Homo sapiens: one gene and its partners. The protein of the gene in region 3 interacts with the protein of the main gene of each other region in a biochemical or structural test. Each region holds a gene or a part of one and is shown on either strand. Other genes may lie near its edges. The genes, in order: DGKZ, DOCK4, CARD14, RALBP1, UBAC1, ABCC4 and SLC15A5.

Region 1 (3,500 bases), on a different chromosome or scaffold from region 3:
ACCCTGGGGAGCACCACGACTTTGAGCCCCAGCGGCATGACGACGGCTACCTCGAGGTCATTGGCTTCACCATGACGTCGTTGGTGAGTGGGCCCTGGGCCCATGGTGCCTGGGAGCACAGCCCAAAGGTGGAAGGGGTCACCCATACTCACCTCCATGGGCCACGGCGGCCTAGTTCACCCTCACCTCCCTTCTTTGTCTCATTCCTCTGGCTTGAGAGCGGCACCTACCCCCTCTCCTCACTATGCCTCGGGATACCTTCACTCCCCACTCTGACTGGAGCGTCACCCTCATTGCCTCTGTCCCTTCCCTTTCCTACCTGGGGTCTCAGCCTCCCCTCTGCCCTCTGGCCAGGGGTCACTCTCACCTTTGTTCTCTGGCTAGAGTTTCTGCTTCGGAAGGAGCAGAGTCTGGGACCCCCCTGCCCCCAGCCCTGGTGCCATCTGACCCAAGCTTCCTGTGCCCACAGGCCGCGCTGCAGGTGGGCGGACACGGCGAGCGGCTGACGCAGTGTCGCGAGGTGGTGCTCACCACATCCAAGGCCATCCCGGTGCAGGTGGATGGCGAGCCCTGCAAGCTTGCAGCCTCACGCATCCGCATCGCCCTGCGCAACCAGGCCACCATGGTGCAGAAGGCCAAGCGGCGGAGCGCCGCCCCCCTGCACAGCGAGTACGTCCCACCCTGCCACGTGCCCTGGGTGCCAAGGCCAGACCCTGCCCTCTCTGGGCCTTGATTTCCCCATCTGTAAAAGGGGCTGACTGTCCCTCTGCCCCAGGGGTGTTGGGAGTGGAGCGGGACCTTCTCTCGGCAAGTGGTTTGGTGCCAGGCCGAGGGTGGCACCAAGGCAGGGCCCTTGCTGAGCCCCCGCTTGCCGGCCCTGCCCGACAGCCAGCAGCCGGTGCCAGAGCAGTTGCGCATCCAGGTGAGTCGCGTCAGCATGCACGACTATGAGGCCCTGCACTACGACAAGGAGCAGCTCAAGGAGGCCTGTGAGTGCGGTGGGGCGGCCTGGCAGGGTGGCCAGGAGGGGCTGAAGCAGCCGGGGCCCCCTTGGGCAGGGCTGTGGGGTGCAGCCAGCTGCTGACAGGTGCTCTGTTCTCCAGCTGTGCCGCTGGGCACTGTGGTGGTCCCAGGAGACAGTGACCTAGAGCTCTGCCGTGCCCACATTGAGAGACTCCAGCAGGTAAGGGGTGGGGGCTTCCCCAGGTGCCCACCGAGAGGGTGGTGGGAAGTGAGGCCAGGCCTCTTCCTCCCGCAGCCAGCTCGCCCTGCGGAGCCTCCTCTGTGCTGGTTCCCCCTACTCCAAGTTCCCTTCCCTCCCTGGCCCCCACTCTATCCCAGCCTGGCCTTTGCTTCTCTCAACAGGAGCCCGATGGTGCTGGAGCCAAGTCCCCGACATGCCAGAAACTGTCCCCCAAGTGGTGCTTCCTGGACGGTGAGTCTACTCCCAGGGTGCCAAGCTGTTTCGTGTTCCCTCCCTAGGGGATCCCAGGTAGGGGCAGCAGAGGACCTGGGCCTGGACATGGCACTCCCTGATCCTCAGCTGCCCTCTCTCCCACAGCCACCACTGCCAGCCGCTTCTACAGGATCGACCGAGCCCAGGTGAGCGATTGCAGGCCTGCTCCAGCCACAGCTGCTTCCGGGCCCCAGGGTCGCCTCTCCTGGGACGCCTTCCCTGTTAGCTCCCCCGATGGGCTCACCTCTGTCCTCATGCCTCTGAGAGCTTTTACTATTGCCTGTGTGCATGGACAGCGTGCGGCCCTGCCCTCCACACTGGAGAGTATAGGGCGGTGCCAGCCAGAAAGGCAGTGGGGTACCTACCAAAGGCTTGCTGGGTGGGTAGGAGGGCCTGGAAGCCCAGAGCCATCCAGGGAGACACAGAAGCAAAGGCATTCTGGTCAGGCGCCAGCTCACCTGGTAAAGTCTGGGCAGTCGGAGGAGGTGTCAGGAATGGGAAGGAGTGGGAGAGGGACAGGCAGGGCCCCTTGCCTGGCCACCTCCTTTCAGTGTTTGTGCTCATGGCAGAGGCTTCTCCAGGTCTACCAGCCTTGCTGCCCCTCGGCCCCCACCGTCAGGTGCCCTGACCTCCCGCCCTGACCTCCCCCCACAGGAGCACCTCAACTATGTGACTGAGATCGCACAGGATGAGATTTATATCCTGGACCCTGAGCTGCTGGGGGCATCGGCCCGGCCTGACCTCCCAACCCCCACTTCCCCTCTCCCCACCTCACCCTGCTCACCCACGCCCCGGTGAGTCCTGGTGTCCCGTCCCTCCAGCCCCTGGCTTTCAGCCCCACCTGTAAGCCGATGACTTCTGAATCCCTGCTTCTAGCCCCTCCACCAGTTAACTAAATGGTGTCAACCTGAACCTGGCCAAAGCCCACCTGACGGCCTTCAGCCCTGTGGTTCTGTGGGGAAGCGGCCTCACGTCCACCCTGGTTCCCTCCCTGACTTCTCCCTCCTCTGGACCTCATCCTTCAGCCAGTCCTGGCAGCCCCCGGACCCACCACCTGAGCACTCCTCCCCACCCCTACTGCCACCAGCCCTTCCCGGCTGCCACGCCCTGGCCCCCAGCTCTTATATCCCTGTGGCCATTCGTGCCCTCGAACCCCCATCTCCATACCACGGTCAACTAAAAATGCAGAGCATACCAGGCCACTCCCCAACCTAGAAGCTTCTTTCTCAGCAGCCCTTTGGACGTGGATTCTCCCCAGGCCCCCCGTCATTGCACTGGGCTCCCAGCCCCCTCCCTGAGTTCACCTCCATGGTCCTGCCCCACTCTCTTCTCTTGGTTCTTTGAGGCATCAGGTGTTTGCCACCACTGGACTTCTGTCATCGCTGCCTCCAACTCTTCCCCCATCTTTCCGGAGCTCCCCCACCCCCATCCCCTTCGAATCTCAGCTTGGCTGTTTCCTCCTTGGAGAGATCACTCCCAGGACCCCCTCTGCAGGGGTGCCACATCACCTGTTCTGAATTCTTAAGAGCACCCCTGCTCTCAGAACTCCTTATTTATTTGACTTGTTTGTATCCCTGAACTAGAATGTAAGCTCCATGAGGGCAAGGCCTTCCTCTGTCTCGTTTCCCTGCTGTATCCCCAGTGCCTGGAATAGTGCTTGGTGTGTAGCAGGCACTCAATAAACTGTGGAAAGGATGAAGATGCCCCCAGTTGGGGTTGGGGAGGGCGACCAGCTGGCCTGTGCCGTAGCCGGTCACAGCACATCATGCTCTGTTGCAGGTCACTGCAAGGGGATGCTGCACCCCCTCAAGGTGAGGCCTCTCCCTCTGGGGCCCCTCCTTTCTGCCTGGTTGGGGGCAGGAGGCTCAGTGGGGTGGGGATAGGGCCCAGACACAGCCTTACACAAACACAGCCTTTGAGCTTCACGCACCAACGGAGCCCTGGGCACACATGCCTGGCCGGCACAGTCCTGTCCACTGAGGCACCAACCCAAGCCCAGGCCTCCGACTGCAGAGTAACAGGCAGGTATTCCGTGCAGGTGAAG
Region 2 (3,500 bases), on a different chromosome or scaffold from region 3:
GGATGAAAACCAGACACGACCTCATTTTCTAATCCAAAGAGCATGCTTTACTTATTAATTTGGCATTATTGGGTAGAAAGAAATGCCTTTGTCATGTTTCATCACACATATTCCACTTTTCACAGGAAGCAAATGTCTTTATTTCCTGTTTAACACAGGCTTCCAACCATGTCTCCTACCTCAGAGGTTTTCAAACCATTTCAGGCTATCAATAGGGACACAGTAGGCAACAGATTACTCATTCCAGTTCTTTGTACTTGATGGTTCCAAATAAATAAACCACGCTTCTCTGGGGGTAGAAAATGATGAGTTGTATGTAGTTTTGTCCATATCATGTAACCTATAGGTTTACTTTGCAAAATATGACACTGCTTTAAAGCAAGATCTACTGATTGCCCACTTCCTTATTACAATGCTTAAGTAAAAATTTCATTCATGCCTCATATTTGGAGTTGGCCTGAACTTTTCTGAGCACAGAATTTTGAGTGAAAAGTTGGCATCGGCCAGGCGCGGTGGCTCACGCCTGTAATCCCAGCACTTTGGGAGGCTGAGGCGGGTGGATCACAAGGTCAGGAGATCGAGACCATCCTGGCTAACACAGTGAAACCCCGTCTCTACTAAAAATGCAAAAAAAATTAGCCAGGTGTGGTGGCGGGCACTTGTGGTCCCAGCTACTTGGGAGGCTGAGGCAGGAGAATGGCGTGAACCCAGGAGGCGGAGCTTGCAGTGAGCAGAGATCATGCCACTGCACTCCAGCCTGGGTGACAGAGGGAGACTCCGTCTTAAAAAAAAAAAAAAAAAAAAAAAAAAAGTTGGCATCAAGCCTACAGCAAGTCTCTAGGAAGAGAACATTCAAAGAATGTTTTAAGAGACCACATGAAGTTGTTTGTTTCACAGGTTGAACATCCCTAATACAAAAACTGAAAATCAGAAATCCTCCAAAATTTGAAGCCTTTTGAATGCCAACATCCCACAAGTGGAAAATTCCACACCCAACCTCACGTGATGGGTTGCAGTCGAAACTTCATGCACAAAATTATTAAAATATTATATAAAATGACCTTCAGGCTATGTGTATAAGATATATATGAAATAATAAATTTTGTTATTTGACTTGGGTCCCTCCCCCAAGATATCTCTTATGTATATGCAAATATTTCAAAATCTGAAACACTTATGGTCCCAAGTATTTTGGATAAAGGATACTCAACCTGTAACTGGCTGCCATAGTCTACTCATTGTTAAATTAATTTTTGCATCGGAGTGGGAAGAAGAAGTAGAAATTAGCAAGCTGGGATATATTACAGGAATCTGTCACCCTTGCTTGCCAGCTTCTGTTAGACCACTGATGCAGGAAACCATGCAGAGGGGGCTCTAGGTAAGCAAGCACATATCCAGGCAAAATAGAAGGGGGTTGGCTTCTGCTTCCCTTACCTGCTCAAGCATCAGCTCTCTTAATCGTGCAATTTTCTCCCCATCTTCAGGGTGACTTAAGATATATTCTTTGACAAAGAATGCCTAGTAAGGGAAAGGAGAATCAGTCTACTTTAGTGGAGTACAAGGCAAGTCAAAGACAAGTTGTTTTTAAAGACCTGGCATCTTTATGGAAATGACACCATTACAAACCACATTTTGGGACAGATGGGCTGATTACTAGTGTAGGTGGTTGGTCAGAATGGGAACATAAGGAAAGAATTGTTAAAGGAAGATCAGTGATTGTACAATAAGTACCCTTGCTAAAATAAAGAACAAGCCCAAATCAGTAAGCTATATGGCTTGTATCCTAAAACAAACTGCCTTAAGATTCAGTGTGACCTAGATGGTGGCCTTACCTTCCAGGGTATTATATCTTTCTGTTTAAGAGAGCAGATGAAAGGTCCACTTAAAGTATCATCTAAGCAAGATCGGTCTTATCTTTTTTTTTTTTTTTTTTTTTTTTTTTAAATAAGAGATAAGATCTTCCTATGTTGCTCAAGCTGGTCTCAAACCAAAGTGCTGGGATTACAGGTGTGAGCCACTGAGCCCAGCCCAGATCAGACTTTTCTATGCCCATGAACTTCTTTGCTTAGAGAAATTATTTTAGACGGATATTTATTAAACAGTCCTAATGTCCTTTCTACTTTTATTCATGCAAGAATGAACACACACACACACATTTTTATTATCCAAATATAACATGTTGGGAAAATGGAGTTACTGGGCAATTACAAATGACTGTATGTTTGCTCTATTTAACAAAGGACTCTGTGTCAATCGCAGCCCTATGTTTGCGTGCTGATATGGGTACATAGTCTGAAAAAAGATTCATGAAACCCTAAGAAGTCACAATTGAAAACTTTCTCTGAAACAACAATACCTAATCCTTACCTCTTGATACCTGGAAACGCCACCATTAACTGCAGCATCTATAACTCCATTCAGGCACATAGTCAGGGGATTAATATTCTGCATCTGTCTTGTCTGACACTGACTAATCAGAGTCTTCAGCTGCTGATTCTTATTTTCTAGCACTTCAATTGCATTTTCCAGAGGACTCATTTCTACCTGAGAAGCAAATGAACATAAATATATATTGAATTTGTGACATTCAAGAAGAAAGACAAAGTAGTTTATCCATGTTCTGAATTATCTGTGCTCCCCCTTGGCTTCCATCAATATCTCTACCAGGGGCCATTCCGTAGAATAGACAAGGATGTGGAAGTCAAGTGGGATGTTCATTAGCAAGGTTTGGAAAGGGCAGGTAATTATACTTATTCATTGAAATGTGGTTTGGATAATCATCAATTCTACATTAGCACTGCAACAACCAATTTAATCCTTAAAATAATATCCAAGCATCTCATGTCTTTTAAAACTAGTTTTTTTTTTCTTTTGAAGGGTTAAATATTCAGAGACCCTGAATATTATCCCCTTTCTCATGCTTATTTGATACAAAGCACCATGGGAGATATAAAGATGCATTTATGGATCCTCTGATGTCAAGGAGCTTTCAGCCCAGTTGGGAAGATGGGACATATGCCACATGAACCTCATATATATATATAACAGCACCATAAGGTGGCACAGGATGGCACACAGTTGGGAATTATAGAAAACAAGATAATATATACTGCAGGATCTATTTGTTGGAGAGCCAAATAGAATCATAATGACTTAAAAATTCCAGGCTGTATGGAGGACCTAATTGTGAAAATGATAAAAGTGCTCTTCAAATGTATGTCATTGGGACTGCTATTGCCTTGAAGAGAAGGTCTGCCAAGCTCTCAGCAATCAAGTAATTCAGGACTACAATTAGCATATTTAAATATTGGTTCATTCAGGCAAGGAAACAAATTAGAGTTTTTAAAGGTCACTTGGATCATCTTAAACCAACACTGAAAAATCCTAGAATATGAAGACTGAACATTCATCAAAGACAAAGAGAAGGGAAGATAAGCAAGAACATAGAAGATTTTGTAACATGTGTAACCATCAAAAAGCACGTGTTCAGGGTATATAAG
Region 3 (3,500 bases):
GCCTCAGCCTCCCGAGTATCTGGGATTACAGGTGTGCGCCACCACACCCAGCCCCATGATTCTTGAAGACCAGATCCTGGCCTAAATGAGTGGCATCCCCCTGCCCCAGCTGACCAACTAGCAGCAGCTCCCAAAGCCCCTCACCCACTTGGAGCCAGTGGCCCCTGTGCCAGCTCACCAGGCCTCACCCTCCATCCTGCTGGGGTCCAACTGGCCCCTGTCAAAGGACAAACGCAGAGGGCTGGCCTTGGCTTTGTCCATACTGACGATGCGGACCAGCTTCTGTGGTCCCCCAGAAGATGGCTAAAGGAGGGACAGAGAAAGGATGAGGAGGAGCTGTTGAAGCCATCAACAGGAATGGGAATTCAGGGGAGATGATTGGCACTAGGGCGACCTGGGAGTGATGCAGAGGCGCAGATGCTCTGAGAACAGCCTGAGGTGTGTCTGCACTTGTGCAAGAGCCTGCAGGCTGGGCAGGGGCTGCAGACCCTGCCCTGGTTTGAAGGGGTGCAGAGGAGAGACAGGTGGGGTTACCCTCCAATCAGCAGCCCACTCTCCACACAGTGCCTCCTGCCACCCTGCCAGCACCGAGCCCCTCTTCCAGCCCACCCCAGTGGGGTCCAGGCCCCTCCCTGGAGCCTCACCTTGCGGGTCACGGTGCACTGCTGAGTCATGTCCTGGATGAGGGCTATGAGCTGCTGCTGAGCCCTGCAGAGACCAGCAGAGGCCCTGACCCAGCTGCCTCCTGCCAGGTGAGCAGGGCAGGGGAGAGCCGAGCAGGGGAGAGTGGGGGAGATGGCCGGGTGGGAGAGAAGGGCCTCCACCTAGAGCTCCACACATCCCTTTGCTGCAGGCTGGAGCGCTCCATCCTGGCGGCCATGCCAGTCTCCAGAGCTTTCAAAAGACTCCAGGGCCTCGGCCCACCCCTGGAGATGCTGATTTACTTGTCCTGGGGCGGGACCCAGGGGGTGCTGTTGAGCAGCCAGCGTACAGGGCCCCACTCCAGGACCTCAATATTCATGGTGGGTCCCTGGCCTGCAGCCTGGAGTCACCGAGAGAGCTGTTAGAAATGCAGAGTGCCAGGCCTCTCCCTGGACCTGCTGGCTCCGATCCCCAGGGGACTTGAGTTTGCAATGAGTGATGGGGGTGCTGAGCTCAACACTCCTGCTTTCTAGCACTGTGCGTTCCGTGCACTTGAAACTTGGAGCCTCCCATAGGCTGATCTAGAACAATGGTTTCCTTTTCTTTTTTTTTTTTTTTGAGACAGAGTCTCACTCTGTCGCCCAGGCTGGAGTGCAATGGCTCAATCCCGGCTCACTGCAACCTCTGCCTCCGGGGTTCAAGTGATTCTCCTGCCTCAGCCTCCTGAGTAGCTGGGATTACAGGCACCTGCCACCACGCCCAGCTAAGTTTTTTGTATTTTTAATAGAGACAGGGTTTCACCAGGTTACCCAGGCTGGTCTCGAACTCCTGACCTCAGATGATCCACCCGCCTCGGCCTCCCAAAGTGTTTGGATTACAGGTGTGAGCCACCATGCTCGGCCTAGAGCAGTGGTTTTCAATGGAGCAAGGCAGGGGGCAATGTCACTCCCCAGGGAGGGTGACCAGCTGTCCCTGCTTGCCCAGGACCGAGGGGCTTCCCTGCAAGTGGGGCTTTCAGTGCTAAGACCAAGACAGTCCTAGGAGAACCAGGGGACCCTTGGCAACCTATAGAGACATTTCTGGTTGTCACAGCTGGGGCATGGGAGTAGTCCCGGCATCCTGGGTAGGGCGGCCAGGGATGCTGCTCTATATCCTGCAGTGCCCAGGACGGCCCCACCACAGACGGGGATCCAGCCCCAAACGTCCATGGTACCAAAGCTAAGAAACCCAGAGCTAAGAAACCCAGATCTAGAATGTTCTAGAATGAACATTTCATTTGCAATATATAAAGCATCCATCACAAAGAAACAACATCTTCAGCAGTGATCTTGGCAGGCTTCCCTCCTTAGGGGGGTCTCACCACGCCCACCCTCTATTGCTGGGCAGGAGGAGGAAGCCGAGGCAGGCTGGGTGCCATTTCCCTGTGGGCCTCTCTGGGGACGCACCGAGCTCGAGGCAGCTGCTCACCTGGAGTAGTTGGGGATGGTGCCGTGCGCGGCAGTATCCTTCATGGTGTAAGAGTTCACGCGGTGGGCATGCCAGCAGCCGCAGCCCTGGAACATGGTGTCGGTGACGTGCAGGACCTCGTTGCAATGCACCTGCAGCTCCCCTTTGGCCCTGCCCTCCATGGCCAGGTTGACCCGGATGTAGAATGAGTCCCCCGAGGTCGCCACTTTGGCCTCCAGGTCCTGGAGTAGCCTCTTATAACCTGATAAAAGGGGACATGAGCCACAGATGAGCCACAGATACGAGCCTCTGCGAGGAAGGTTGCAGAAAATTAAAGTAGGAGAGAAGGAAGGACCCTCCCAGTCTCAGAAGCTGCTCTGGCACTGGAGTCAGTGGGTGGGAGGTTTCCAGCTGGCTTGGGGGCCTCCTGGGGACCTGGGGCACAGCCTGGCTGATCCTCTCTTGGCTCTGGGGGTCCCTGGCTGCTGGGCGTGCAGAAGAACCACCAGGGACTTAAGGGTCATGGAGTCTGGCCAGGCAGCTGTGCACACGAGAGGAGTGGTATGTGTACCGTCCGTGTTGACCTTCACAGACAGGCAGCAGAAGCCGTCCACCCTCCTGAGAAGCCCCACGGCCTCCTCCAGGGTCGTGTCCTCCAGGACTGCCTTGAACAAGGGCTCTGAGGCTTCGTAATCAACCTGAGGGCAAGTCGAGAAGGTCAGTCTCTTTCCCCCGGGACTCTGAATCCAGCCAGAAGACAGAAGGCGCTGAGGGCACTGAGGCGAGGCGCGGGCCAGCCCTGCCGTAGGACCACTGCCTGCACGCCTTGGTCAAAACAAAGCCACACACCAGAGCCTCTGTGGGGCCTTCACACCTCTAGTGATGCGTGCTACACATAGTGCTGGCCAGAGAGTCAACTGCCAACCCTTCCCCAGTCGAGATCGGGGGTTCTTTGTGATAAGCACTTTCCTGTCTTGAAAAAGAAAAGAAAAGAAAAGAAAGAACCTCGGTTCTAGAACATTCAAGAGCATTCTAGATAGAGGTTTCTTAGCCTTGGGATCATTCTGTGCTGCTGCGGGCTATACCGGGCCCTACAGGATGCTGAGTGGCATCCCTGGCCTTCACCTACCCGATGCCCTGGCTCTCCACCCACAGCCTTCCCCACTGTGAAGGCCCACCCCCCAGGGCTTCCACCATCCACTTCATTTCTTCTCAATATTGTTCTAAGCTTAGGAGAGTAGATATTTTTACAATAAAAATTAAGATGTGTTTTAACACCATTAGAATCTAATTGGCCCCCTTAGGATATCGGGACTATCTCCCTGAACATCGTCAAGGGGCTCTGTTGCTTGAACTACCTCAGAGCTGATAATTGGGAACCTTAAGAGCAGGGTTCCCCAACCCCTGGGCCA
Region 4 (3,500 bases), on a different chromosome or scaffold from region 3:
GCTGGCGTGAAAACATAGCATCGGGAAAATCGGTAAAGCAAAGTTAATCCATCCCTTCTTATATTGGTTCTGGCTGCTATACCATGATTCCTTTATTTAGGCAAGATGTAGAAGCAAGAGAAACAAAAGCCAAACCTCCATCAGCCCTGTCCTAGGTCAGTCAGGGGACTCTTCATTTAAAGGCTGACTGGCAATGCCATATGATTAACAATTACAATTTGCCCCTGAAGCCTGAGTGGTCCATCTCTAATACCTGATTCTAGGCTGAGACATGAAGGGAAAATTTTAACAGCAACACCAACACCAAAAACAAAAAACACGTAAAGGAAGCAAGAGATAGATAACCTAGTGAGCTAGGAAAAAGAAGGAAGAAAAATACGCAGAGGGCTTCTGCTACATTACATATCCTGGAGCGCACGTGTAAAAGTCCCATGAATGTGCCCCGTGTGACAAAGCTATCCTCCACATTAATACAAATCTCTAACCTCAAAGAAACAGAAGTATTCAGGTTGTCTTTGTCTCTTTAACACAACCACAACAGAGACCTACTATCATGTTCCCCAATTCAGGCAAGGGCTAACTAATGTTCCTTGGATGTGCTGTTTAGATGCTGCAGTTGATCTGCAATGTGGATTTTAAGGTGATCCAGAGATCTGGGATTTTACCATTGCTGTGGCTGGTACACTCACAGTCCCAGAACCAAGCAACACACACTAAACAAGAGGGAACTCAAAAGTCTGACTGGCATACCCTAAACTCATCAGGTATTGCAGGCCACTCTTATTATTATTACATAAATAGAATCTCTCCTGATCTTCAAGGCCTTCCAGGTGACCCTCATCACTACATTTCCAAAGAGCTGACTAATTCTAAATGCCTTAAATTCCCCAGCAGTCCCCAAAGGTGTGTCACCATCCAGCCTGTTTTTCATCCATAGAAAGCCCTGTTTACAGGTATAACCAAGCAGGAAATGACAAATTTTTTAGTAAAATCATTTTTAATTAAAACAAAACTTTCTAGGCCAGGCATGGTGGCTTATGCCTATAATCCTAGCACTTTGGGGGGTGGGAGGACTGCTTGAGCCCAGAAGTTTGAGACCAGTCTGGGCAGCATAACAAGACCCTATTTCTACAAACAATAAAAAATGAGCCGAGCATGGTGGCGCACACCTGTAGTCCCAGCTACTCAGGAGGCTGAGGTAGGAGGATCCCTTGAGCCCAGGAGGTCGAGGCTACAGTGAGCCATTATCGTGCCACTGCACTCCAGCCTGGGTGACAGAGCAAGATCCTGTCTCAAAAAAAAAAAAAAAAAAAAACTTTCTAGATTACACTGAAACATGTGACTGACACCAGGCTGCAATATCAATAATATAGGACTAGAAACATTTTAGTGAATAAATGTCCCACCAGAGAAGTTCACTTCAAGTGACATTATAATATTCTTAACAGAAAGAACTTGGGCTGGGGGTGGTGGCTCATGTCTGTAATCCCAGCACTCTGGGGGAGGCCGAGGTGGGAGGATTACTTGAGGCCAAGAGTTTGAGACCACCCTGGTCAACATCAAAAGAAAAAAGAAAGAAAGAAAAAAAAAGAGTACATAAAGTACATAAAAGACTCAAACACATTCTATTATAAACATTAGGTATCAAAATAATAACTCACCTGTCTTTTAGCTTCTCTCAGTTTTCTTTTGAGGGCTGTCAAAATTCTTTGTACTTCCCATAATCTTTCTTCTTTAGACAAATCCTTTATCCCACCCTGCAGATCTCGATGTAAACAATTCAAAAGAAACTCCTAGAAAGCAAATGCCACACACCTAGTTGCATTTCATATCCTCTTATCTTAAACTAACAACACGTGCAATTTCTAAAGATGAAGAATCAACTATTTTTCAATTATCCTTTATTTCATTAGAGTAAAATAATGGCACTAATTATTTTTTTGAAGATATGATTGAAAAATCATTCTTATTGTTTTGCCTATTAATTATTCACTAATTTGTATTGGTTCAATAATACTTAATCCACATCCCCATCTCCAATGTCATCATCATTAACTAGTAAGCATTGGGAGCTCAGGGCAGATACAAGGGAAGAAAAGCAAGCAGGGGTTTGATAAATTGCATGCAAATAAATAATCAAATGTAATTAACTTTCTTATTTAGTCTTGAATTACACACACACACACACACACACACACACGGCATTGTTACTTCCATCAAAATAGCACAGTAAAAAATCCCAGGATTTGGGCTCAAATCTTGGGTCTGTAATTAGTAATCATGTCACACAGGGTAAGTTACTTAACTTCCCTGAATTTTAATATTCTTATCTATAAAATATGGCTGATGACAGCAACCTTGTCAAGAAAAGGCAAACATCTTTAGACTATTTACAACGTGCCTGGCATGTTTCATATATTATCTCATTTGGGGTAATCTTCACATCAATCCTATAAGAGGATCCATTTTAAAGCAAGAACACCAGTGCTTAAGGTGGTTAAGAATTTGCCTAAAATCAGTTAACTAGATCAGAGCAAGAATTTAAAGCCAGGTGTTTTGATTCCAAAAACTATGCTCTTTCCACCATGGTATTCTGACTTATTTGGCATGAAACAGTACCAGATGGGAATTTCTGACTTCAGTGTGCCTAACATAGCTCCAGACACACAGAAAGTGTTCAGGAAACAAGAGCCCATCACCACTGGACTCCACAACAGCCAATGCAGAGGCAGGCTGTGGCAGGCAGGGTGCACACACCTGTCTCCTGATCTCCTCCTTGATGCCCGCCTGGGTCTCTGGCAGCGTGGGCATCGTGGCCATGTTAGACCATCGCAGAGGTTTCATCACTTGCTTTAGTACCACATTTCCAAAGAGTTCTTGCACATGTGTGAAAAACACATACAGGACTCGATTGCTGATCTAAGAAAAAAAGATTTACAAGAAAACCATTAAAACTATCATTCTATTTCACTTATTTGTGTCTATTACATAATATATCCTTTAATCCTGGACACATAAAGAAAATTCTACCCAGTAATGACAACACAGTCTTTGCTAGTTAATAGCCAATTTAAGAAGAAAATGGTAAAATATGAGTTAAATCATGTATTCAAGCACCAGAAAGATCTGAAGGGAAAAAAAGTCAAGAAAAGGATAGAGAAGTTGATGCCATCCATTTGTTTATTTTTTCTATCACAGTATTAACTGATTTAAACATCTTATTTTTTGTGTGTTTTTTGTTGTTGGTGGCGGTGGTGGTGCTTTTTTGAGATGGAGCCTCGCTCTGTAGCCCAGGCTAGAGTGCAGTGGCACAATCTCAGCTCACTGCAACCTCCACCTCACGGGTTCAAGCGATTTTCCTGCCTCAGCCTCCCCGGTAAGCTGGGATTACAGGCGTGTGCCACCATACCTGGCTGATTTTTTTGTATTTTCAGTAGAGACGGAGTTTCACCATGTTGGCCAGGCTGGGCTCGAACTGCTGACCTCAAATGATCTACCCA
Region 5 (2,453 bases), on a different chromosome or scaffold from region 3:
AAAACAATGAAAAGACCTAGATGTGTGGAGAGAAACATTTTCCGAAAACATTCTTACTCAGCTACAATGCAAGCAGAGTTCAGAAGGGGAGGGGGCTGGTTCAGAAGAGAAGTTCAAAACAAACAGCTCGGAACTGACTGCTTCCAGCAACAATAATGAGCAGAGTTCACAAAAAACAAAATAAATTCATTTTCTCATTTTAAGACACCGGTCATGTTTTTTAAAATGAAAAAAAAGGAGGAAGAGGCCAGAGGTAGGCGGAGGCAGCCGTGCTTGGGCTCAGGACCTGTGTCCCAGGAATACGGGCTCAGCTCCAGTCCCTTAAACCCAATACAACACGAGGCTTTGCCAACCAAACATGGCCACAAGGCCTCCCACATGCTGCGGTGGCCCCGGTGCCCGCCCCGGGTCAGAGCAGCCGGCACGGAGCCGCGGGGATGTGGCCTCTCGGGGACGCACGGGTTTCTTGTGCGGCACCAAGAAAAGACGAAGACAGGAAATAGGAAAAGGGACTTTATTAAAGAAAAGTCATCTGTGAGTGACTAGTTAAATTAGCATGCTTGACATTAACTCTGGGTTGAAACCTACCTCCGTCAAATAACAAGTGGACTCTCCAAGCAAATGTCTACACGGCAATTCAAGCAGCAACTCAAGAGCCCAGAGGAGCACTGGAGACGAGGCCATCACTCCACTTCCCAGTGCGACAACCACTTTTTTGTAAACACCTGTCAGATGCTAAAAATACGGCCTTACACACTACCGTCACCAAAGTTTATAAGCAATAAGATCAGAGAGCAGGAGCAGCTGCAGCACCTCTAACAGTCCAGGGCTGAGGCGCTGAAGGTGAGTTTCCAGGTGAGGTCCACTCTGCCCGGTCTCGGGCCGCACCAGGGGGCTGCTGTGGCCTGATAGCCGAGTGGAACAACGCCACCTACGTGCGATTTAGTGTCTGGAAGATTCTAGAGATCTGCAGCATGACAGGCCCCGTTTCTGGATCATTCATCCACTGGGTGCTGTTCAGTGGGTTCTCCAGCATGTCTTCAAATGCTGCAGGGAAAACAGAGCCAGCCTGAGTGCCCACGCCCCCACTCAGCCCACAGGCACAGGCGTGACTTTCCTCTTCGGCAGCTTCCTAATGAAGAGGGTGCGTCTCCAATACAAAGGCCACACAGAGCTCACTGCTAAGTGTGCACTCTCAGGCTGAAACCCACCCAACTCCATCGGATGCACCCATCAAATCAGATCTGATCACAGAGAGTCATGCACTCAATTCTGGCAGGTGGGCAGTGTGCCTGTGCGTGCTCATGGCACCCCCACTCTCGGCAGCTGTCTGGCAGCCGCCAGGGCTCAAAAATCATCTTCCCCAACAACTCCACTTCCAATCCCACCCCGAGAAGGTCAGCAGATGCAGAAAGGACACACACAGACACTGTTGCAAAGTTAACAACAAACTGGAAAAACGTAATGCTCAGCCTTCAGAAAATTCCTTCTTCAAAAAACCAGCACATTAAAAATGCAACACAGCACTTCTTCAAAATGAAAACTTGGGTTTTAACAGCTTTACAAAACTGTTTCCCCAAAACAGGTGGCTTTTAGCAAAAAGCTCTCTGTTCCACCCACTGTGAAGGAGCACGCGTTCTGCCAGCCCCTCTGCCAGGATCGATGGCTCCATGCTGACCTGACACACATGGACGCACTTCAGCATAAGTGGCCCCAGGTCTACAGGCTCCAGGGACAGTGCTCACTACAGAATTCACAGCCATTCACGGCCCAGTAGCCCATGGCTGAGCACAGAGCTCAGAGTGAACCCAACTTGGCTCTGTTCATGATTGGACAATCCCCAGGCCTTAAAACAATCCTCTGGTGTTCTGATTAAAAGTCTCCAAAAACCACTTTAAAATCTCAGAAAAAGCCAGGCACGGTGGCTCATGCCTGTAATTCCAACACTTTGGGAGGCCGAAGCAGGCGGATCATGAGGTCAGGAGATCGAGACCATCCTGGCTAATACGGTAAAACCCTGTCTCTACTAAAAATATAAAAAATTAGCTGGGCGTGGTGGCAGGCGCCTATAATCCCAGCTACTCGGAAGGCTGAGGCAGGAGAATAGCATGAACCAGGGAGGCGGAGCTGGCAGTGAGCCGAGATTGCGCCACTGCACTCCAGCCTGGGCAGCAGAGTGAGACTCCGTCTCAAAAAATAAAAATAAAAATCCCAGAAAAAGACTCAGAAAGAACAAACTATAAGGTGCGAAACAGCTGTTTCACACACAGGGCGGGGAACTTAATTTCCCATTTCCTCTCAATAAACAGCAAAATAAATTCTGGAAGGATGAAAGAGTTGAACAAAAAGATAAAGAGTTAAATATGAAAAACCACACAGATGATTATTTATCTGAGGAAGGACTTTCCTTTTTGAATTTAATTTTTTTTTGAGACAGCGACTTGCTTTGTTGC
Region 6 (3,500 bases), on a different chromosome or scaffold from region 3:
AAGGTTCCTTGGGTGTGCAACTTTGGTGCCCTACTCCACGTAAAAATCTTCTGTAGCTCAACTGAGCAAAACACACTCGCACATTCATCTACTTATTCATCATGCTTATTACCGTTCTCAAATTCAGAGGCTTGGTTCTTGTTTTTGACAACGTCCCGCTGGTTTGCCGTCCGTCTGGATGCCATCTGTGCCATGTTTGTCATCATCGTTGCCTTTGGGTCCCTGATTCTGGCAAAAAGTAAGTACAGATGTGAATAACTATGTATGGTATGATTACAATTTATAGCTGTGTTTACATTTATTAAACTCTTGCCACCTTGTCTACTACTACATACTGTTTGGTCCTAATGAAGTGTATTAAATCATTTACGATGTGTCAGGTTGGGTAGGATTCAGCAGTGTGACTCATTTAAGGAGTCATTTGGGTCTTGATGGGTTTATCTTTCTTTGAATGGGTTGAGATATGCGCAGTTGAGATTCTGAACATTCCTGTTAGTGTCTGGTAGTTGTGAAGAGAAAACCAATTTATTCTGAAGCATTTTGTCCAACTTAGGGTGTTAGCCTTCCAACTACTTGAATCTATTGTTTGTAGTTGCCTGGTGCATGAGGTTGAGAAAAATTCTCAGCAGGAGAGTATTATCTTCAATGCCACATGGGTACCAGACAAGCAGGGCATGAGTTCACCACCCCAGTAACAACAGTGCATTACAATACTTAATAATGGAACAAGGAGAGTAGTATTTTAGTCTCAAAAGCATTGGCACTTACAACCTATTGCTTTGTTTTTAGTGGTTTCCAGCTGTGGTTGCATTGCACGTAGAAAGTGGAATAATGTAATGAGCTTTGAAACCATAATAATGAATGTCTGAATAATGACATTATTTCTTGCGTTTGTAATACTGTTAATTAAATCTATGTCGATCCTGTTGGAATTCATAAAATCATCTAAAAATTTTTCTAAATATACAGTGTTGTTTTCCCCATTGTATCTTGATCTCAAGCAACAAATGGTAAAAGTATAGCTATTAATGTCATTAAATGTGAATTGTTTCAACATTATGAAGGGTTCCTCTTGGTAAGTGGCAGAAGGAGCCAGGCTTAGGTTTGAAGTGAGACTGACTTTATTCCCTTCTTCCTCCTTACGTAGCTCTGGATGCCGGGCAGGTTGGTTTGGCACTGTCCTATGCCCTCACGCTCATGGGGATGTTTCAGTGGTGTGTTCGACAAAGTGCTGAAGTTGAGAATATGGTAATATTTACCTTCACGTTCTTTGCCTTTTCAATCTCCTTGCCATTAAATGGTATAAAAGCCATTCTTATGTGAAATATTAAAACTGTTATTTTTACATCTTTGGTAACAGATTTTTTTTAAGATCCTTCCTCCATCTGTTTAAAGTTAATGTAAAATAAAATATATACATCTTTTTCTGAGTCTTATGGTTGCTCTGTCAGCAGGTTTTATATTCATCACAAGCTTTTTCAGATGTAATAAATGTCTCTGTAGGAGGGAGGTTCTGAAATTCTAGAGAGGATATAAGCTAATTTCTTAGAAGCCTGTTTAATTTTGTTTCTTAACGGGTAATTCCTCATTCCTGTTAAAAGAAGACTTCAGTATTTTGAGGTTGTTTACATTTAATTAATAGGTCTCCTCCTCTCCCAGTTCTAGCGTTTACTCTCTTATGTGAAGAACAGAAGGGAGGAAGGCCTTAACTTTGCTGGTGTGCCTTCTTGGTACAGAAAGCCTCCTCTTGGAATGTGCTAGTCAAAGGGTATTAGTTTATGGTGGTATAGGAGGCTTTAATCAATGTTTTAAATATTTGCACCTTCCCCTAAAGAGAGAAAAGCAATAAACATAAAAATCTTTTCATTCTTCTCATAGAGCAAAAGTTGAGTAATTATTACAGTGAGGTTTCACGATCATCCAGTTTAACTGACCTATATCAGGTGATCCTTCTATAGCAAAAGATTCTTTTTTGGGGGGTAGGGGTGAGGGGACAGAGTTTTGCTCTTGTACCCCAGGCTGGAGTGCAATAGTGCGATCTTGGCTCACTGCAACCTCCGCCTCCCGGGTTCAAGCGATTTTCCTGCCTCAGCCTCCTGAGTAGCTGGGATTACAGGCATGCAGCACCACGCCCAGCTAATTTTTGTATTTTTAGTAGAAATGGGGTTTCACCATGTTGACCAGGCTGGTGTCAAACACCTGACCTTAGGTGATCCACCTGCCCCGGCCTCCCAAAGTGCTGGGATTATAGGCATGAGCCACCGCGCCCAGCCAGCAAAAGATTCTTGATTGGTGGCTCTAAGTATTCCTTTCCTTTACAAAATTTTCTTGCCTTTAATACAGGTGTGAGAAGTGGATAAATAAAATCTAAGCATTCATTTCTCTCATTCTTTTAACCTAATGTTGAAGGAAGTGGTTGTAAGTGAAGGTGTTACACAATGATGAACCAAATTTGTAAGTCATCAACATCCTCGTCTGTCTCCTGCTTCTCTCCTTAACCAACTATGTATGAAAGAAGAACATTTCATTGACAGTCTCTTAACATCCATAAATGACACCCTCCATTCCTAACCCCTCGGGATGTCATATTTCTTTCAGATGATCTCAGTAGAAAGGGTCATTGAATACACAGACCTTGAAAAAGAAGCACCTTGGGAATATCAGAAACGCCCACCACCAGCCTGGCCCCATGAAGGAGTGATAATCTTTGACAATGTGAACTTCATGTACAGTCCAGGTGGGCCTCTGGTACTGAAGCATCTGACAGCACTCATTAAATCACAAGAAAAGGTTTGTTTAAAGCATCTTGCCTCTTCTCAATTTCAGAAGATTTAGTGCTATGTCTGCTTGTTGTCTTCCTTGTGGATGTGTGAAGGGGATCAGTGATACGTAGGTTAACCTGTCTTGGAAACTAACCATGGAATGTGGATACCAACATTCTTCCTGCTGTGAACTGCTTTACTGTGGTTGGTGGGCCCCGGGCCTCAGGGCTGGAGCTTAACGTGACCCAGGATACTCTGTTTGATACCTAATTACTCATGGATTTTTCCAGGAAGTCAACTCTGGCTTTGTGTCACCAACACTCCTATGTCTAATTCTGTCGATTTTTACTTTGTTGCATTTCTCAAGTCCTTCTCTTCCCCTCCACTGCTGCAGCTTCTGTTCCAGCCTTTCTCCTCCTCCATCCTTTGGTCCTGTATTAGTCTGTTTTCACACTGCTGATAAAGGTATACCCAAGACTAGGCAATTTACAGAAGAAAGAGAGGTTTAATGGACTTAAAGTTCCACATGGATGGGGAGGCCTCAGACTCATGATGGCAGGCAAGGAGGAGCAAGTCACATCTTATATGGATGGCAGCAGGCAAAGAGAGTTTGTGCAGGGAAACTTCCCCTTATAAAACCATCAGATCTCATGATACTTATTCACTATCATGAGAACACCACAGGAAAGACCTGCCCCCATGATTCAATTACCTCCCACCGGGTCCCTCCCACAACAT
Region 7 (3,959 bases), on a different chromosome or scaffold from region 3:
TCTGTTGTAAAATGATGCAGTAAAGAGACAAAACAATGACATATATGAAGAAAAGTCTCCTCTGTGATGTGTGCAATTGTGTATCTCATCATCAGTATGCCTGCATTTAGTAGCTCTGTAGAAGCACCATGATGTGTCATACCCCCTGCCAGGTGATGGGGGTCCGCTGAAGGAAATGTTGAGTCCATCAGAGAAGTCAGCCATGCAGGTGGACAATTATATTATAAAGTGATGGATGCAATCGTATAAGTATTATATGGGTGTGGTTGAACACAGAGAAGCTAGCAACAAACACTATTTGGTTCTTGAAAGAATAGCAGGAGTTTTCCAATCATGGATAAGGGATGGAAAGATAAGGGAAGGTGACAATTTCAGAAAGAGAGAAGAGCATGTACAAGATTAGAAAACTAGGGAAGGAGGCCAGGAGAAGTTAGCAAGGTTGGGGTTGCGTGTTGAACAACAAGTCTAGAGAGGTGAACTTAGAATAGGTTGGTAAGGTTGTTGTATGCTAAATTAATAAGTTTGGATTTCATTTTTTAGATAATAGAAGCAATATAGAGATTTATTTGTTCAGGAAGTCAGTGTTGTTGGTAGAATGGAGTACAAGCTGGAGACTGACTGAGAACTGGCAGCCGAGTAAGTAGGCCATTGGAATGGTTAAAAAGAAGAAAGCTGCATTTTTTCAGCTAGGGTAGTAGCAATTCAGACAGAAGACCTTTCTTATATATAACCTCTGAAATTTAGTGACAGTTGGAATTTGATGGCAGCTGTAAGTGGAGGGCAACAAAGAAATAACTTTTAGTAAAAAAATGAATGGATGTAGAGTTGACTTAAGTCTTTTGTTTGCCAGATTCCAAAGTTGGGATTTCCATCCTGTCTGATGACTGACCTCAGAATTTAGACTGATAGAAATTACCATGTTAAACAAGAAGTCAACAAATGCTACTGGTGTGGCCTGTTACCAAGGTAAGCAGAGTAAGTTAGTCTGGGATTTGCTTAAATGTCTTCTTATCAGAAAACTTTTTCTCGGTACCAAGTAGCAGCCTCATCACCATCCATTCCATCCTGTCCCCCTACCCAGCTTTATTTTTCCATCCTAACTCATTGCCACATGACATCATATCTATTTCCTCTTTTATTTTCTCTCTCCCTGCACCAAAAAGTCAACTTTAGCAGGAACAGACGACTTTCTTCTCTATTGCATTTCCAGACCCAGAATAATGTCTGGTACAGAGTAGTCAATAAGAAATATTTGTTGAATGTTGAGTGATTATTTGCCATGCAGTGACCTAGTTTTTATTCCACAGAACTAAAGCTGTGAAGTTTCCAGGTTTGACTTAAACTCCAATGGATTCTCTGAATGGTAATTTACCACCTGCCTGAGATTGTGTGATATGTTGAGTACCTGATATCTATCCATCTCTTTCTCATCTGTCCCCCTACCAATACTCATTTCAGCTGCACTTCTCATTATTGGTGAACAGCATGCTATATTCCCAAGTTGCTCAGATCAGAAACTTGGAGCTAATTTTTGACCCCCATCACATTTGTACCTTTATTTAGTTGCCTTACAGCTTTTCACTTGTTCTCTCCTGAATTGGCACTTTATTGCTTAAACCATCATCCTGAGATTTTCTGATCTCTCTCTATTTAATTCCTCACTGTGGTTGTCCATCCTGTATTGCAGAATAGCATTTCTCAAATGTTGTTTTCATGATATTTTCAGAGACTTCTTGTTGCTTAAGAAGAATAACTTGAACTTTTCAGTTTAAAATTCTAGTCTGTTCTTCAAGTTGCTCTCTATTTCTTATTAAACTATCTTGATATTTTCCCAGCATTTCTCACAATCGGTCCCAAACTTTTGCAGATATATATTAGTATATATGTAAAGATGCACACTATAGTGTCTAATTTACTCATTTCTAAAGCATATAATCATAGTTAAAAATATAGAAATCATGCCATCATATGCAATCTTAATTACTATATGACTAATTAAAAGACCACCTTTGGATAAAAACATTTCTCAATTATTTTACATGAACTTCAAAAACCTTTTTTAGCACATTTCATCTTAGTTGTGAAGCAAATACATTTCACATTTCTGAGGGAATTTGTCATGAATTTAGGCTTGAGGTAAAAAGGTTTTGGGAAAGGAGGGCATTCTAAGGAGTAAGATAGATATGTAAAGGAGTAATTATTATAAAATATAAATGCAATGATATAGGCACAAAACATTCTCTAACACACACACACACACACACAGACTTACTAGCATTCTTCAAATAGTACAAAGAATGAAATACATTGAACCCACATTCTTACTTCATTTATCACATTTTATGCTAAGAGCAGAGTGAAAATAATATAAACTAAAAATTCTAACAAAAATCTACTTAATTAAGTCACAAAACAATCCAGTCAGCAGAGGACACTCACCTAGAAAATGTAGAAACAAGCAAATGTACACCAGTTTGTTTCTTCCTAAATAGACATCAGTGAGCCATCTGACAAACACAGGGGTAAGTATTGAAGTTCCAATAAAACACAAGTTTAAGATGGCTGCTTGGCAATTGTGATAGCCAAGCTTGATAGTGCAAAAGGGGATCATGTTGCAGACGACTTCAAAGAACGTGAACCTCTCACACAGCTCCACCAGAAGCAAGCAGATTCCAACCTGAATTTTTTTCACAGAGTGTGAGGAACACAAATCGCCAATATGTCTTACAGTTTTCTCCTTCTCAATGCTGTGATATAAGTGTACTTTCTCATCAGTTATGGTAAAGCCTGTAACAGACATGACTACCCTCCTTGAACAAAACTTATGTTAGTGGTTTGAACTTGGTGATATTTTGAGCCCCATCCCTCTGATGAAAAAAATAAGAACGTTGCTTTGAATTTCACATCTCCATGCTAGAATTTCATAAGGTTTGTTTTTTGCACATGGACGTTGTTCCTTTTGATGATCCAAGAGCATGAGTATTTAAATGTTCACAGTAGCTCAGTGTACCCAAATCTGATTTGTTTGCTTAATTACTTAGCGGCTAAATTAGGATCGTCCTCCAAAATTGTATTGAATTACATGAATCCAGTTGCAAACATGTGGAAACTCATCTGCCTCATACTGATAAAGGTTTAAATATTGAGGCAGAAGAAGCAGGTTTTCGGGAGAATTTGAGCACTAGATCAAGAAATAATTTGAGTCTAATAATTTCTGATACTTTAATTAAACAAGCCAGAACAGTACCAAGAGATAAAGCGCAAAAGGAAATCTGTTTTGAAGGGCACGATATCTTATCATTATTACATTTCTTGTTATTTTTGGTTGGAATTCTGATAAGAAACTTAATTAGGTAACAAAAGTGCTAGTACATTTAGGTAACAAGCAGAGTTTACAAGAAAGTAATTTAAGTGCACTAATGAAAGGAGAAAATATTAAACGAAACCCTGCTTCCTTTTAGTTGACCCCATGCTTGTAGAACAGCCTCTCAGAGGAAATCAGAATCAAAAGGTGCTATTTAACTCCTTTATTATTAATCAGTAGTCAGGGATACAGCAACCAGCCTACACAGGCTTTGGGGAATATTGGATCTGGTATCACCCTGACCCTTCAGCTGGGTGAATGGGTGTTAGCATTCTATTTTGGAAAGCAGGAGGGCCAATTAAGCTAAAAAAGCAGCAGTGAAAGAGAACACCTTAACATTTAGTGGCTTAGCTGCAAGGACATAGGAAGAAAAGGGACCGGAACTATTGGGTCAAAGTCATAATAATTCAACACTTGAGTATAGGAATGTTATTTTCATGCTGTAGTCAAAACCTAAAGACCAATAGGGACTTTTGACTCTGGTTATCATCTTTTGGTTGTGAGAGACTGGGGGCAAAATACTCTGTTTTGACCCCTTCTAATAGCCTCATTGTAATGGTAGCTATTTGTCTCTGCTCAGCATTGCTACTTTGGT

Evidence for each region.
Region 1: the proteins of CARD14 (region 3) and DGKZ interact in a test that uses a peptide from one of them, tested with the Homo sapiens proteins (one large-scale study listed by IntAct).
Region 2: the proteins of CARD14 (region 3) and DOCK4 interact in a test that uses a peptide from one of them, tested with the Homo sapiens proteins (one large-scale study listed by IntAct).
Region 4: the proteins of CARD14 (region 3) and RALBP1 interact in a test that uses a peptide from one of them, tested with the Homo sapiens proteins (one large-scale study listed by IntAct).
Region 5: the proteins of CARD14 (region 3) and UBAC1 form a complex in vitro, tested with the Homo sapiens proteins (one study listed by BioGRID).
Region 6: the proteins of CARD14 (region 3) and ABCC4 interact in a test that uses a peptide from one of them, tested with the Homo sapiens proteins (one large-scale study listed by IntAct).
Region 7: the proteins of CARD14 (region 3) and SLC15A5 interact in a test that uses a peptide from one of them, tested with the Homo sapiens proteins (one large-scale study listed by IntAct).

What each region holds. Positions count from the first base shown.
Region 1 is NC_000011.10:46,374,963-46,378,462, forward strand, and holds part of DGKZ (diacylglycerol kinase zeta), read left to right. Parts: coding exon 1-83; intron 84-469; coding exon 470-669; intron 670-888; coding exon 889-989; intron 990-1,103; coding exon 1,104-1,183; intron 1,184-1,365; coding exon 1,366-1,435; intron 1,436-1,439; exon of another isoform or gene 1,440-1,522; intron 1,523-1,561; coding exon 1,562-1,602; intron 1,603-2,110; coding exon 2,111-2,250; intron 2,251-3,235; coding exon 3,236-3,267; intron 3,268-3,494; coding exon 3,495-3,500. UniProt on the Homo sapiens protein: Diacylglycerol kinase that converts diacylglycerol/DAG into phosphatidic acid/phosphatidate/PA and regulates the respective levels of these two bioactive lipids.
Region 2 is NC_000007.14:111,744,900-111,748,399, forward strand, and holds part of DOCK4 (dedicator of cytokinesis protein 4), read right to left. Parts: intron 2,545-3,500; coding exon 2,368-2,544; intron 1,519-2,367; coding exon 1,435-1,518; intron 1-1,434. UniProt on the Homo sapiens protein: Functions as a guanine nucleotide exchange factor (GEF) that promotes the exchange of GDP to GTP, converting inactive GDP-bound small GTPases into their active GTP-bound form. Involved in regulation of adherens junction between cells.
Region 3 is NC_000017.11:80,201,030-80,204,529, reverse strand, and holds part of CARD14 (caspase recruitment domain-containing protein 14), read right to left. Parts: exon of another isoform or gene 2,787-3,500; coding exon 2,660-2,786; exon of another isoform or gene 2,351-2,659; coding exon 2,110-2,350; coding exon of another isoform or gene 2,106-2,109; exon of another isoform or gene 854-2,105; intron 753-853; exon of another isoform or gene 709-752; coding exon 645-708; exon of another isoform or gene 304-644; coding exon 189-303; coding exon of another isoform or gene 179-188; exon of another isoform or gene 1-178. UniProt on the Homo sapiens protein: Acts as a scaffolding protein that can activate the inflammatory transcription factor NF-kappa-B and p38/JNK MAP kinase signaling pathways.
Region 4 is NC_000018.10:9,524,013-9,527,512, reverse strand, and holds part of RALBP1 (ralA-binding protein 1), read right to left. Parts: intron 2,920-3,500; coding exon 2,758-2,919; intron 1,794-2,757; coding exon 1,662-1,793; intron 1-1,661. UniProt on the Homo sapiens protein: Multifunctional protein that functions as a downstream effector of RALA and RALB. As a GTPase-activating protein/GAP can inactivate CDC42 and RAC1 by stimulating their GTPase activity.
Region 5 is NC_000009.12:135,932,469-135,934,921, forward strand, and holds the end of UBAC1 (ubiquitin-associated domain-containing protein 1), read right to left. Parts: intron 1,048-2,453; coding exon 932-1,047; 3' UTR 501-931; downstream 1-500.
Region 6 is NC_000013.11:95,070,952-95,074,451, reverse strand, and holds part of ABCC4 (ATP-binding cassette sub-family C member 4), read left to right. Parts: intron 1-127; coding exon 128-238; intron 239-1,147; coding exon 1,148-1,248; intron 1,249-2,598; coding exon 2,599-2,790; intron 2,791-3,500. UniProt on the Homo sapiens protein: ATP-dependent transporter of the ATP-binding cassette (ABC) family that actively extrudes physiological compounds and xenobiotics from cells.
Region 7 is NC_000012.12:16,274,886-16,278,844, forward strand, and holds the start of SLC15A5 (solute carrier family 15 member 5), read right to left. Parts: upstream 2,801-3,959; coding exon 2,440-2,800; intron 1,641-2,439; exon of another isoform or gene 1,308-1,640; intron 967-1,307; exon of another isoform or gene 1-966. UniProt on the Homo sapiens protein: Proton oligopeptide cotransporter.